Homo sapiens: one gene and its partner. The protein of the gene in region 1 interacts with the protein of each later gene in a pairwise test. Each region holds a gene or a part of one and is shown on either strand. Other genes may lie near its edges.

What was found.
Region 2: the proteins of CD4 (region 1) and CCR5 interact in binary tests that used the Homo sapiens proteins (3 or more experiments, as listed by UniProt).

Annotation. Positions count from the first base shown.
Region 1 is NC_000012.12:6,813,524-6,820,545, reverse strand, and holds part of CD4 (T-cell surface glycoprotein CD4 isoform 1 precursor), read right to left. Parts: intron 6,405-7,022; coding exon 6,246-6,404; exon of another isoform or gene 6,083-6,245; intron 5,788-6,082; coding exon 5,554-5,787; intron 4,816-5,553; exon of another isoform or gene 4,561-4,815; coding exon of another isoform or gene 4,491-4,560; coding exon 4,143-4,490; intron 3,417-4,142; coding exon 3,216-3,416; intron 2,126-3,215; coding exon 2,004-2,125; intron 1,700-2,003; coding exon 1,632-1,699; intron 1,248-1,631; coding exon 1,217-1,247; 3' UTR 1-1,216. UniProt on the Homo sapiens protein: Integral membrane glycoprotein that plays an essential role in the immune response and serves multiple functions in responses against both external and internal offenses.
Region 2 is NC_000003.12:46,366,650-46,373,945, reverse strand, and holds the start of CCR5 (C-C chemokine receptor type 5), read right to left. Parts: upstream 3,001-7,296; 5' UTR 2,958-3,000; intron 2,703-2,957; exon of another isoform or gene 2,529-2,702; intron 1,055-2,528; 5' UTR 1,044-1,054; coding exon 1-1,043. UniProt on the Homo sapiens protein: Receptor for a number of inflammatory CC-chemokines including CCL3/MIP-1-alpha, CCL4/MIP-1-beta and RANTES and subsequently transduces a signal by increasing the intracellular calcium ion level.

The DNA of each region.
Region 1 (7,022 bases):
GAATGGTCTGGAGGAGGGTAAGGGAGGGTGTGGGGCAGGCGCAGAGCCTGGCACAATCACCTTTGAGGTCCCTTAGAGGGTTCCCTCTCAGGCTAGCTACCCCCTCTCCCAGCAAAGCTCGCTTCCAGGAGGTTCTGCACAGGGTCAGTGACTGGTCACTGGGCATTCTCTCCTGCAGTGCCTGTGCTCCCAGCTTGCGCTCTGATTAGAAGAGCCAAAGGCTTTGTCCTCTGGTAACAGATTCTGCCACCAGCGGGGGATGAAGGAGGGATTTTAGACAGGGAGGCCTTCATCCCTGCTCGTAAATTCTCTGAGATGGACCCTTCCCATGGGTGCTGTGCTTCTGTGAACCCAAAAGTACACATTGAGTACCCACCACTAGCCACTGGTGAGAGCCGTGTGGCATTTGTCCCTGCATTCAAGAGGCAGCAGTGGAACTTGGGACAAGGGACCTGGGTTAGTCCCGACTCCAGCACTTGCTAGTCCGGCACTTGGTAATCAATCATCTAGCCTCTCTGAGCTCTGGTTCTGGTCTATAAACTGGAGATGATCATCTTAGTTCTGTCACTGCCAGCCTTGTAGGATTTTTCTAAGTCTCAAATAGACAGAGGATGTGAGACATCCCTTGAGGCCGTGTACATGGGGCTGTGTCCAGAGGGGCTGTTTGTGCAAGGTCAGGATGTGAGTCTGTGGTCCCACCCACATAGGGTGAGAAGCGGGCAGCATGGGGCAGGAGGTACTGGCTGCCAGAAACCTCTGGATCTGCATCCATCCTTGACTGGCTTGGCTGTGTGATTTTGTGCAAGTTCCTGCCCTCTGTGGTCCCAGGGTCCTGTCTTGTAAAAGAACAGTCCCATGCTCCATGCTTCCAGACACCCAGCCTCACCCTCCATGCCAGCCAGGGCTGGCCCTGAACACTCCCCTGGGATCCAAATGAGCAGTGGGGAGAGGGTCAGAGAGAAATAATGAGAGAAGGGCTAGGCTTGAAGGAAAAGGAAATGGCGTGGAGGACGGTGTGATTAAGCCTCTGGAAACTAGAGAGCAACACTCAACCAGTGAAGCCGGGGCCTAACCCAGGAGAAACAATGGCAAATTGTAGAGGAGGCGAACAGGAGGCCAGAGGCTGGGGATCTGCTACATTCATCTGGTCCGCAGGCAGGAAACGCGGGGCAGACACCTGGGGAGGCTGCAAGTGGGATCTGCCTGGCCTCGTGCCTCAAATGGGGCTACATGTCTTCTGAAACCGGCTGCAGGAACAAAGAAGAAGGGGAGCAGGTCTGTCCCCACTGCAACCCCTTTGCGTTCTAGCACCTCCAATGGCCTTTCCAGCGCAGCACAGCTCCAGTGGCTTTCCAGCAGGGCCTTTCCTGGCCTGCTGCTCCTTCAGCTCCATCCTCCCACTTCTGCCTCCTTCTAGCTCCTGGCCATCTTTTCCCACCCCTCTATCCTCTCCACCACACCCCTTTAGCCCCCATCTCCTCACCTCCACCCCTCCCAGCTCTTCCTCCTCAACTCCTTCCTCCTCTCCATCCTCCCTTCCTGCCCCCCTTTGCTCCCCTTCCTCCCCCTCCTCTCTAACTCCCTCCCCCTCCCCCTTTCCCCTCTCTCAACCCCTCCTCCCAGATCCTTACTGAGGACACTGGCAGGTCTTCTTCTCACTGAGGAGTCTCTTGATCTGAGACATCCGCTCTGCTTGGCGCTGTCCAGGGACAAGAAAGGGAGTCACGAGGGTCCCAGGCCTCCAGAAGGGAGGTGCCCCTTGGTGGGGGGAGTGGGGGAAGCTGCGACAGGAGAAGCAGTTACATGGCCCAGGCCATCTATCCTGGAATTAACTCTCTGCTCCTTCCTGTCTCTCCCTTGAGTGGGATCTGGGACAGGGCAGCAAGGGAACTTACGAGTGGGCAGAGGGAGCTGGGCCAAAATCAGTTCCCATATACAGGATCTCCTGGTAGAGGACTCAGGGGTTTGAGGGCCTTGTGGGGACCAGGTGTGGGGTTACTCACCCTTCGGTGCCGGCACCTGACACAGAAGAAGATGCCTAGCCCAATGAAAAGCAGGAGGCCGGCGACGCCCCCCAGCACAATCAGGGCCATTGGCTGCACCGGGGTGGACCATGTGGGCAGAACTGCAAGGGAGAGAAATGTGCTCAATGCACCGCCCTCCTCCACGGGCCAGGGGACTGAGGACTGCCCTGCAATCCCTCCTGGCCAGTCTCTGGTTTGACCCTGGGGTTGGGGGAGAGGGGAGGGGTGCCTGGGGGCTCTCAAAGGCCGCCAGTGCTGGGGAATCGGTTTTATGTTTGGGCATATCCATATCCAGGGCACTCTGGAGAGAGAGAAGCTGTGGTCTGGCTCCTGGGCTGTGTGTGTGAGTGCATGTGTGTGTGCATGTGTGAGTGTGTGCATGTGTGTGCGTGTGTGAATGGTGTGAATGTGTGTGTGTGCGCGCGTGTGCGCGTGTGAGTCCATGTGTGAATGTGTGTGCGTGTGTGCATGTGTGTGAATGTGTGCCTGTGTGCGTGTATGAATGTGTGTGCGTGACTGCATGCATGTGCGCGCGCGTGTGTGCACATGTGTGAATAATGCGTGTGCGGATGTGAGTGTATAAGTGTGTGAGTGTACGTGTACGACAGTGTGTGGGTGAGAGTATGTGCGTGAATGTGTAAGTGTGTGTGTGCATGCATGTGTGAGTACATGTGTGTGTATGAGTGTGTGACAGTGTGTGAGTGCATGGGTGTGAGTACATGGGGTGAGAGTGTGGGTGTGAGTGTGGATGTGTGTGTAGTGTGTGTATGAGTGTGTGCGAGTGTGTGAGTGATGTGTGTGCGTGTGTGAGAGTGTATGGGAGTGTGTGCATGTGTGTGAGAGTGTATGTGTGTGAGTGTGTGTGTAAGTGCGTCTGGATTTGGAGAAAAGCCAGGAGCCAGGGAGGGGGGCTCTCGGTCAGGTGGACCCCATCCCTAGGCTGTAGACCTGAGGGAGTGGGAACTTGTAGAATTACAACTGGCAGCCTAGAGCCCAGGACCACAACCCACCTCACTTCATCACTTCTATGCCTCCTTTTGGGGCCTCCAAAGCACCCTGGGACCACAGAGGACACCATACCCATAACCCCCCAACTCAGGCATTGGGAGGCCGGGACTCTGGGTGGTCTCTGCCAACCACAGGAAGGTCCCGCAGCCCAGGAGGCAGAGGCCTTGGAACCTGGGTCCTTACCCTTGATGTTGGATTCCAGCAGGACCTGTCCCGAGTCACTCAGCAGACACTGCCACATCCCCGCCTCAGGGTTCAGCACCCACACCGCCTTCTCCCGCTTCGAGACCTTTGCCTCCTTGTTCTCCAGTTTCAAACTCAGCATCAGCTTAGGGGAGGTGGGTCCCCACACCTCACAGGTCAAATTTTTCTGGAGCTGAGTGGCTGCAGAGGAACGAGAGGCTGAGATCAAAGGCCTGAGATTCAGTAGAACAATTAAAATGATACTCTATATGGGTGACCTTCTTTTAGCCTTTTAGAGCAGGTTTTCATGCAGTCCTACGAGGAAAAACAGCGTTTGGGGTCCAGTGGTATTGGATTTGAATCCCAGCTCCACTGCTTAGCAGCTGTGTGTCTCTGGGCAAGTGACTTAACAACCTGCACCCAGATAGTACTAAAGGCAGGCATACATGTAAAGTGTTTGGATGGGGCCCGACACGTGCTGAGCATCAAGTGTTAGCCATTACTATTTGCAGAGTCGTTATGATGATAAGGAGATAAGGAAGCCAGAAACTCAATTTGGAGCTTGACATTATCATCATTACTATCACACAGAGAGCAGATTTCATTATCCTTATTAGACAGGTCAGGAAGCAGGCCTGCAGTGGGAGGGGGCTTAGCCAGGGTCACAGAGGGTTGGTTATAGGAAGAACTGGAACCCTGGTTCTTAGCCCAAGTGCTTTGGGGATCTTCAGTGAAGCCAGCCCCAGGCTGGCTCATGGATGTCTCAGTTCAAAACCAGCCCCAAACCCAGAGGGCCCTCCCTCACTTCATCCAGGTGACCAGGGCCTAGGCATCCCCTCTTGGGGCCTGGCTTGCCTCAGAGGGAGCCCTGGGCCAGGCCCCTCCAACTCCTTCCCCTGCCCACCCCTCCCTGGCCTGGCCCCTCACCTCTCATCACCACCAGGTTCACTTCCTGATGCAACTTTCCTGTTTTCGCTTCAAGGGCCAGGGTGAGGTTTCCAGAGCCAGCATACTGAGGCAAGGCCTGGGGCAGGGTGAGGTGGAGCGGGAGCTTCTTGCCCATCTGGAGCTTAGGGTCCTGGGTAACCCGTTTTACAGACACTTCCTTGTTCTTCAGGTCAAAGGTGATCCAAGACTTGGAGGAGGAAGCCCTCTCCGCCTGCCACCACAGCTCGCCACTGCCCGTCAGCTTTTCAACTGTAAAGGCGAGTGGGAAGGAGAACTCCACCTGTTCCCCCTCTTTCTTATAGACTATGCTGGAGGCCTTCTGGAAAGCTGGAGGTGGGAAGGGAGAGACCCTGGGTGAGGAGATAGGAAGATGAGGGTGCACGAGTGGGGTTGGCATGTGGAGGCAGCAGGGAGATGGAAGGGGACCCGACGAGTCCAGACACCCACCTTGTCACTTCAGATACTTCAGTTCCTTCCTACCTCTCCAGCCTTCTCTCCCTTCTTCCACCCAGCATTTTCCTACAGCAGGCCACCTCCCTCCTCCCGGAAGCCATCACAGAGCAGCCCAGCCACAGGGGATCCTTGCTGTCCTTAGGATTCCTGGACCACAGAAGCCATTTGGCCTCCACTCCTTAGAGGCGTATTCATCACCCTTCACAAAATAACAGCGAACACTTAACTAGGGCTTACTCTGTGCCAGGCACCATTTTCAGTGCCTTACGTATATCAGTCCTCAACTTAATACGAGGTAGTCACTATGGCAGTTAACATCATCCCCATTTCACAGAGGCTGAAACCAAGGTGCAGAGAGGTTTAGTAACTCACCCAAGGTCACATGGTTGTGGCAGAACCAGGATTTCAATCAGCGTACATGCACTAAACTGGCACACTACCTTATGTCTACCTTAAGTCACATAAGCACCCAGGGGACAGGATCTGGGGTAGGACCTTGGTCTCCCCACAGTGGCCTGGCTTAGAGGTCCAGAGGTACAACATAGAACATCATCAGGGTTGGCTTACTGGTGTTAGTGTCCCTGAGTAAGTGGATTTGCCAACTTGGTAGGGGTGTGGAGCTGAGGCAACAAAGAAAGTAAGCTCCCTGACATTCCTCCTTTGGGGCCTCCAAAGGAGACTCGGGCCTCTAGCATCCTTACCTTCCCCAGCCTTTCCTTTCTCCATGTCCACCACACTGAGGGGTGGCTGCCAATCAGCCCCCTGAGGATGAGGGCCCCAGTGAGTCCTTCAAGACAGGCCTCAGCTCTAGGGGACCTAGTCTTCTCCACTCCTGACCTCCCAGCACCAGAACCAGAAACAGGGCAGTCAGAGCAGAGGGAGGGGCTGTCAGCCCCTGGGGCAGGGAGGAGACTGCGCGAAGAGGGGCTTCCCTTACCTAGCACCACGATGTCTATTTTGAACTCCACCTTCTTCTGGTTCTGCAAGACAGTGCATGTCCAGGTGCCACTATCCTGGAGCTCCAGCTGAGACACGGAGAGGGTCTTCCCCCCCTGTATGTTTTTACCCCTTGGACTCCTACATTGCACTGAGGGGCTACTACCAGGGGGGCTCTCCAAGGTCAGGGTCAGGCTCTGCCCCTGAAGCAGGTGGGTGTCAGAGTTGGCAGTCACTGTGGAGGGAAAGGCCAGCTGTGTCACACACATACCATCCCCAAGGAGAAGGGCAGACAACAGGAAACCAACAACATCTCTCCATTATCGCCGTCCCAACATCTCCTTCCTCCCAGCACCCAGCTGCGCACCCCCAGCCAAGATAGGGTTTCCCTCTCCCCTCCTCTCTCTCTTCTTTCCTCCTCTCCCCTCATCCTCTCTTCCCCAGTCTCTCTCCCTCCTTCCCTTGCCTCCTTCCCTTTTCTTTCCTTTTCCCAAGGCCTCTTCCCTCCTCCGCCCACCAGCATCCCTCACCTGATCAAGAAGGGTTTTAAGACATTTGGAGGCCAGTTTGACAGCCTGGTCCTCTTGGGGCTGCTGCGGTATCACCAGCTCAGGCTGGATTTGGTGCAGGGGTGGGAGTAGTGGGGAAGGGAACCAGGCAGGAGGTATCCTCATCCCCACCTGCCCCACTCACATCCGAACACTAGCAATTGCACCTCCTCCTTCTGGTCCTCCACTTCACAGATGTAAGTATCTGAGTCTTCTATCTTAAGATTCTTGATGATCAGGGGAAAGTTTCCTTGGTCCCAAAGGCTTCTTCTTGAGTCAGCGCGATCATTCAGCTTGGATGGACCTGGGAGCAGAAGACATATGGGGGGGGACTGAGGCGCCCTGGAGACAGGGCACCTCTGGCAAGAGAATGCCCACGGCTCTTCTGATATCAGTTGCTAATTTCCTGCAACATCTGCTCCTCGTTCTAATCAGAGAAACCCGGTCTGGCAAGGAGGTCTCATCATATCCATTTACCTGGCTGGGACAGTAGCTCACAAATACAAATAAAATCATATCCTTATTTGGAGAGCACCAACTCCTACATGCCAAATACTTTACAGGCATCATCTCAGTAATCTCCACAATAATTCCGAGAAATAGATACTGTCAACACTGTTTTGTTTATTTTGCAGATAGAGAAACTGAGACTCAGAGAGATTAGGTAACTGCCTAAACTCTCACATATTGAGATTAAGTAATTACCCAACTCTCACACATTGTAGGAGAATAAACCAGTACAATTTCTTTGGATGGTGATTTGTAATCTATACAGAATTACAAATGTATATACAAAACCAAATGTCCATCAATAAAGAATAGGTTAAATAGATCATAGCTCACCCATTCAGTGGACTGCTATGCAGCCGTAAGAGAGGAATGAGGAAGTGCTTTGTGTACTAATTTGGACCCGTATCTAAGA
Region 2 (7,296 bases), on another chromosome or scaffold:
ATTTCCTGCTCCCCAGTGGATCGGGTGTAAACTGAGCTTGCTCGCTCGGGAGCCTCTTGCTGGAAAATAGAACAGCATTTGCAGAAGCGTTTGGCAATGTGCTTTTGGAAGAAGACTAAGAGGTAGTTTCTGAACTTCTCCCCGACAAAGGCATAGATGATGGGGTTGATGCAGCAGTGCGTCATCCCAAGAGTCTCTGTCACCTGCATAGCTTGGTCCAACCTGTTAGAGCTACTGCAATTATTCAGGCCAAAGAATTCCTGGAAGGTGTTCAGGAGAAGGACAATGTTGTAGGGAGCCCAGAAGAGAAAATAAACAATCATGATGGTGAAGATAAGCCTCACAGCCCTGTGCCTCTTCTTCTCATTTCGACACCGAAGCAGAGTTTTTAGGATTCCCGAGTAGCAGATGACCATGACAAGCAGCGGCAGGACCAGCCCCAAGATGACTATCTTTAATGTCTGGAAATTCTTCCAGAATTGATACTGACTGTATGGAAAATGAGAGCTGCAGGTGTAATGAAGACCTTCTTTTTGAGATCTGGTAAAGATGATTCCTGGGAGAGACGCAAACACAGCCACCACCCAAGTGATCACACTTGTCACCACCCCAAAGGTGACCGTCCTGGCTTTTAAAGCAAACACAGCATGGACGACAGCCAGGTACCTATCGATTGTCAGGAGGATGATGAAGAAGATTCCAGAGAAGAAGCCTATAAAATAGAGCCCTGTCAAGAGTTGACACATTGTATTTCCAAAGTCCCACTGGGCGGCAGCATAGTGAGCCCAGAAGGGGACAGTAAGAAGGAAAAACAGGTCAGAGATGGCCAGGTTGAGCAGGTAGATGTCAGTCATGCTCTTCAGCCTTTTGCAGTTTATCAGGATGAGGATGACCAGCATGTTGCCCACAAAACCAAAGATGAACACCAGTGAGTAGAGCGGAGGCAGGAGGCGGGCTGCGATTTGCTTCACATTGATTTTTTGGCAGGGCTCCGATGTATAATAATTGATGTCATAGATTGGACTTGACACTTGATAATCCATCTTGTTCCACCCTGTGCATAAATAAAAAGTGATCTTTTATAAAGTCCTAGAATGTATTTAGTTGCCCTCCATGAATGCAAACTGTTTTATACATCAATAGGTTTTTAATTGCCTACATAGATGTCTACATTGAATTAACTCTCTTTTTGGCCAAGCAATGAAGTTTTGTAGTGAAGGGAAGGTTTGCTGCTAGCTTCCCTGTCCACTAGATGGAGAGCTTGGCTCTGTTGGGGGAATTCATGAAAGCACCATCTCACCAAATAAAATCTTGTGCTCTATAGCACCATGGAGTGAATGAAGCTTTGACAACAATTTTAAGAAACTGGGTCAAGCATGGTGCAGCTCAGCCTTTTTGTTGTTGTTGTTGTTGTTGTGAGACAGGGTCTCACTCTGTCGCCCAGGCTGGAGTGCAGTGGCACGATCATGGCTCACTGCAGCCTGGACCATCCCGGGCTCAAGCAATCCTCTCACCTCACCCCTCCAAGTGGCTGGGGACTACAGGCGCCACCACACCAAGCTAATTTTGTTTATTTTTATAGATACAAGATCACACTATGTTGCCCAGGCTGGTCTCGAACTCCTGGGCTCAAGCGATCCTCCTGCCTCAGCCTCCTAGAATGCTGGGATTACAGGCATGAGCCACCATGCCCGGCTGCAACTCAGTCTTAACATTTTTATTGACGCTAGAGTTAGCCCACAAAGAACATGCACTATGAGCAAGCCAGTAATAATTAAGAGGCCTCGAGGGCACATACTGGATGCCAATCACTGTTCTAAGCATCATACCCATTCATTCATTTAATCCTTAGGGCAACCTTATGAGGCAGGAAATATTTTTCACATTTTGCAGACAAGGACCTTGAAGCACAGAGAGGGTGAGTAACTTGCTCAAAGCCACACAGCTAGTAAGCAACCGATTTTGAATGCGGGAAGCCTGCACTCTTAACTACCATGCTACCCTCCCTCTCAGTCCTCGAAAAGAGAATTAAAAGGCAAGACCATCAGATGTTTGGTGACATGATGTAGTCAGAGTGAAATGGCCGGGTGCCCAAGTCCCAGGGAAGGTCATAGATGACAACAGCCAATTGTAAAATCCTCACATTTTCTGTGAAGTTTGTGTTTGTAGTTTCTGAGTTGCCACAATTAAGAGTTGTCATACATACCCAAGAAATAATATAATAAAAAATGTTTCGTCTGCCACCACAGATGAATGTCATGCATTCTGGGTAGTTTAGTCTTATAACCAGCTGTCTTGCCTAGTCTATTTAAGTTCAGCTGCTCTAGCTGAGAATTTTCTCTTATTAAACCCTGTGAGTCTCAAACTCCCTGCACCTTAGACTAGGCAGCTGAGAGAAGCCCCTAGAAAAGCTCATTTTTAATTTTGAACCATAAAGAATTATATACTAACTGTGCCATGAAACTGATATATTAGAGGAAAATTTTATTTGGCGTTTGTAATTTAATATTAATTTTGACCATTTTTAGGCTTCCCTCTTGTCTGGAGGAAAAAGAAAAAAGAGAACCAGACTTAGACACAACTTCTTGTGGGCACATATTCAGAAGGCATCTCACTGGAGAGGGTTTAGTTCTCCTTAGCAGAAGATAAGATTTCAAGATTTCAGCTAAGACTCATCTCTCTGCAAATCTTTCTTTTGAGAGGTAAGGATTGTTAGTTATTAAAATACTATTGCTCCCTTTAAAGTCTTTCACTCACAATCATGTTTTGTATCTTTGATGTTATAACCGTCTGAAACTCATTCCAAACTGTGACCCTTTCCTTATCTTAAAGATTATATTTTAAGATAATTGTATGAGCACTTGGTGTTTGCCAAATGTCTTCTATGGGTTTCCTGTAAAGTCTTTTACTCATCTCAGAAGCTAACTAACAGGCCAAGCAGCTGAGAGGTTACTTACCGGGGAGAGTTTCTTGTAGGGGAACGGATGTCTCAGCTCTTCTGGCCAGATGAGCTGTGCAAATCAATCATATAGACAGTATAAAAGTAGGAAATGCTGTTTCTTTTGAAGGAGGGTGGAGTTAAATCATTAAGTGTATTGAAGGCGAAAAGAATCAGAGAACAGTTCTTCTTTTTAAGTTGAGCTTAAAATAAGCTAGAGAATAGATCTCTGGTCTGAAGGTTTATTTACGGGCTTTTCTCACTGGATTATTTTGTTTTTGTTCTCTGCTCATCCCACTACACAGAATCTGTTAGAAAATATAAAGAATAAAGGATATCAGAGCTAGAAGAACATTTACATTCATCTAGTCAAAAGCCCACATTTTAGTAAAAGAAATTACTATCCAAGAAGCAAATGATTTGTACAAGATCACAGGGCTTTTCAACAGTAAGGCTAAAAGGTTAAGAAAATTCTGATTATCTTAAGAGTTGCTATTAATTAAAGCCAACTTAAACCAACTTTAAATGTAGAGGGGGATCCTGGACTTCACATTAACCCTGTGTCCCCTTTTTCTCCACTCTCCCCGTATCCCCTATCCCACCCCAACCCCCACACAGATGCTCACCACCCAATATTATTGTTCTCTGTAAACGGAAACAACCTGTTGTCTAAAGAGTTTTAACTATGGGCTCACGGGTGAGCTAAACAGGTTTCCCATCTTTTTCTGGACCCAGGATCTTAGTGGGGATTTTCACTCTGTTCACTATTTTGTTGCCCTTCAAACCAGTAAGCATTTATGAGGACTCACACTATGCCAGATACATAGGTGGCAGGATTCTTCACTCCAGATATAATCTATCTGAAGCTATGAGAAATTTTCCACATGACATAAGTATATGGTCAAGTTCAGGTTCTTTATGACTATACTATATACAGTCATATCAAGCTCTCTTGGCGGTTGGTGACATCTGAAAATCTCAAGTATTGTCAGCAGAGCTGAGAAGACAGCAGAGAGCTACTCCCGAGCCACAAGATGCCCTCTGGGCTTCCGTGACCTTGGCTCTAGAATAAAAAGCTTTGGCTTGTGATCTCTAAGAAGGCAAATGAGACCCCAAACAGCAAAATTACGTGCCCCCAATCCTACAGAGGCAGACTAACCCAGGGGCTAAGCCAGTGGCCTCTGTAGTCAGACTGCCAAGCTTGAAACCTGTCTTACCCTCAGCTTTCTCGTCTGGGTATTGGGCTGAATGACAGTAGTCATTTCATGAGTTGTTGGGAGGATTCTATGAGGCATCCACGGCCAGCATCTAGCACATACTATGCACTCAGTAAACATCAAACTCTTAGTTACTCTTTCAGCAGTCCTTTGTCAGAGAGAGTTTATTTGATCAAATCCTAATAAAATTGGTTCACCGGAGTCTCTGTCTATAGCAGATTAGTTTCAGCAAACTAGAAGCTGAAAAGGTAAAGCTAATTGCTGGTGCTTGGAGAATAGAAAGAAATGACTGCTTGGGAAAAGCCAGAACAGTATAGAAATAGCCCAGCGATCAAGACACCCCCACCCCCGCCCCATATAGGGACATATGTCTGTGCTACAACAGAGCTCAGTAACATAATCATAACAAGGACAGCGAATCATCGAGAAAATGTTCTAGTTCATCCCATATGTGCAATTCAAAAGGCATTGATTAAGAACTGCAGTCATGCTGCTGGGTTTAACCTCCAGCTTCATTACTGCTACTTGGCTCTGACCAAATTATTGAAGCTCTGTGCCTTAGTTTTCTTAACTGTAGAGTGGAGGTTTTAAAAAAACCCAAATACAAACTTACTCAATATGCCTGTGGTGGAGAGGGAATGATAACAAGTGTAGAGCCTTTTGGGCACCCACCCTCGGGGGACTGTTTAAGCAGGGAAATATAAAGTGTGCTTTTGAAAGAGTTCAAAAATAGGTAACAAATAAATTAATATAAAATTTTATAGAAAATAGATAGCATAAATACAACTTTGGTTTTTCGAAAGATAGATAGCCTTGTATTCACTGGTAATCCACTTGTGCAGAACCCCCGGAGGCTGCCGGACCAACACTGTATTTCTGTTTGTGGCAATTGCTGGTTCTTACTTTCACCATGCAGAGCTGAGGCTTTGCCATGTTCTGTTTGTCTGTCATTAGGGTATTGGAGGATGTGAAGACATACTCACCCCCAGAGGGCAATGTGGGCTAGCGGAGCAGGCTCGGAGTCACACACGCTGTGCTGCTGACTTGCTGTGTGACCTCGGCAAGATACTTCCACTGCCCAAGCTTCCATTTCCTCATCTGTTAAATGACGTGCTAGACCTGGGGCAGCTTCCACCCTAAATACTACATGATTCTATGGCCAAGTTAGTTTGAAAAATATAGGCTAGATGGGAAACAAGGTGAGGATTCACAGGCTGAAACAAGGAAGCACAGCTTTGCAGTGTGCGTTACTCCACTTTTGTGTTTCTGGTCCAGAGGTGTGTTCTAGTAACCACTCAGGACAGGGGGGTTCAGCCCAAGGATTCACAAGAAAGTGGGGACCCATGGGAAATTCTTCAGCATTTAAATGAAATGTTGTTCTGGATACAATAATGACAACAAGCTAGCAGCTTATCATGCTGTGACTTAGTTGCTTGGTGTCTGCTACTCTTTCTACTTTGTCCCTCTCAGTTTGCATGGCTCTTGTTCTCTTTTTATTATTAAGTACATTCGGACACCCCATAGGAAATGAACTTTTGATCACTTTGTCACTCTAGACTCCATGCCCATATTGGAGGGTGTTTCGTGCCATCCCTCCTTTTTGGGGCCTTTTTGTCTTTAAACAGCTGCCCCATGTCTAGTCACTGCACCTATGTTCCAAGCATTGCTTTGCTGTCTCCTTGCTCACACCATTTCTGGACCATATTTTCAGAGCATCGTCAACAGGATGGGGAGAATGTTAATTATTCACTTTGGGTGCAAGGGCCAACTACATGAGCACAGTGAGCAGAAACCCTGCCATACAGCAGCTGTTGTGAAAATCCCTGGGGCCTGAGTTGACTCCTGGTCAATATCAGTCAACAGTGAGACGGGCTGTAAAAAGAGCAAATGAATCTTTTATTTTTAAAAACAAATGTCTAGGCCAAGTGCGGTGGCTCATGCCTATAATCCCAGCACTTTGGGAAGCCAAGGCGAGTGGATAACTTGAGGTCAGGAGTTTGAGACCAACCTGGCCAGCATGGTGAAACCCCATCTCTACTAAAAATACACAAAATTAGCTGGATGTGGTGGTGCGCCCCTATAGTCCCAGCTACTCAGGAGGCTGAAGTGGGAGAATCTCTTGAACCCAGGAGATGGAGGTTGCAGTGAACCAAGATTGGGCCATTGCACTCCAACCTGGGTGACAGCAAGCTGTGTCTCAAAACCAAACCAAACAAACAAAATGTCTAATTATAAAACCAACACATGCTCATTGTATAAAATTGGGAAAAACAGAAAAAAGGAAAAACTTAGGTACATTCTCACAGTATCAAAACAATGTCTTTTAAAACATGATGTTTCAATCCTGACTTTTCCCATGCACTTTTCGATTAATTGTTCTCATGCATATACCATTCTGTAGGCGGCTTCTTTTTTTTTTTTTTTTAGCTAAAGATTATAGTGTAGACATTTTCCTATATTATTAAAAAATTCTTTATAAGTGTAGTTCTTTATTATTTTTATTGAGGAAGAACACACTTAGTGGTACAGCTTGGTGAGTTTTGATATGCACACATGCATGTAACTACCACTCCGGATCAAGATGATAAGGAACATCCCTATCACTTCAGAAGGTGCCTTTTGCTCCACCCAGAGGTAAGGGCCACTCTGTCTTCATAGAGATTAAATAAGCCTGTCTTTAACTTCTATAAATGGATTAAAGATACTGTCCTCTTTCCTGTCTGGCTTCATTCATTCAACAAAATAGCCTTAACTATATTTAACAGAGCTCCGTCATTGACAGTCGGGCTCTTCCCGTTGTTCAGTAGACAGTCGGGCTCTTCTCGGTTGTTCAGTCATGTGAGCAGTGTCACACTGATTGTCACCATCAGTGCTCTGACATCCCTGTCAAGAAGTACACTCTTCCTGTCCCTAGAGCCACCTTTAGCAGGAGAGCCAGGGAGTCCCCCTGATCCTCACAGAAATAGGAAGAATCTACCCCCATCCAGTGCCACGCTTTGTTACCCATGTGCCTCAACAATGACACTTGAGTCTTATGACACCCACCAGGTGACAGCCTCTTTACCTTCTGCCTCAGACACCTATCATCGTGGGTGGGTTGGGAACTCACCATGCTGTTGTCTCCATCCCTGCCTCTGTCCT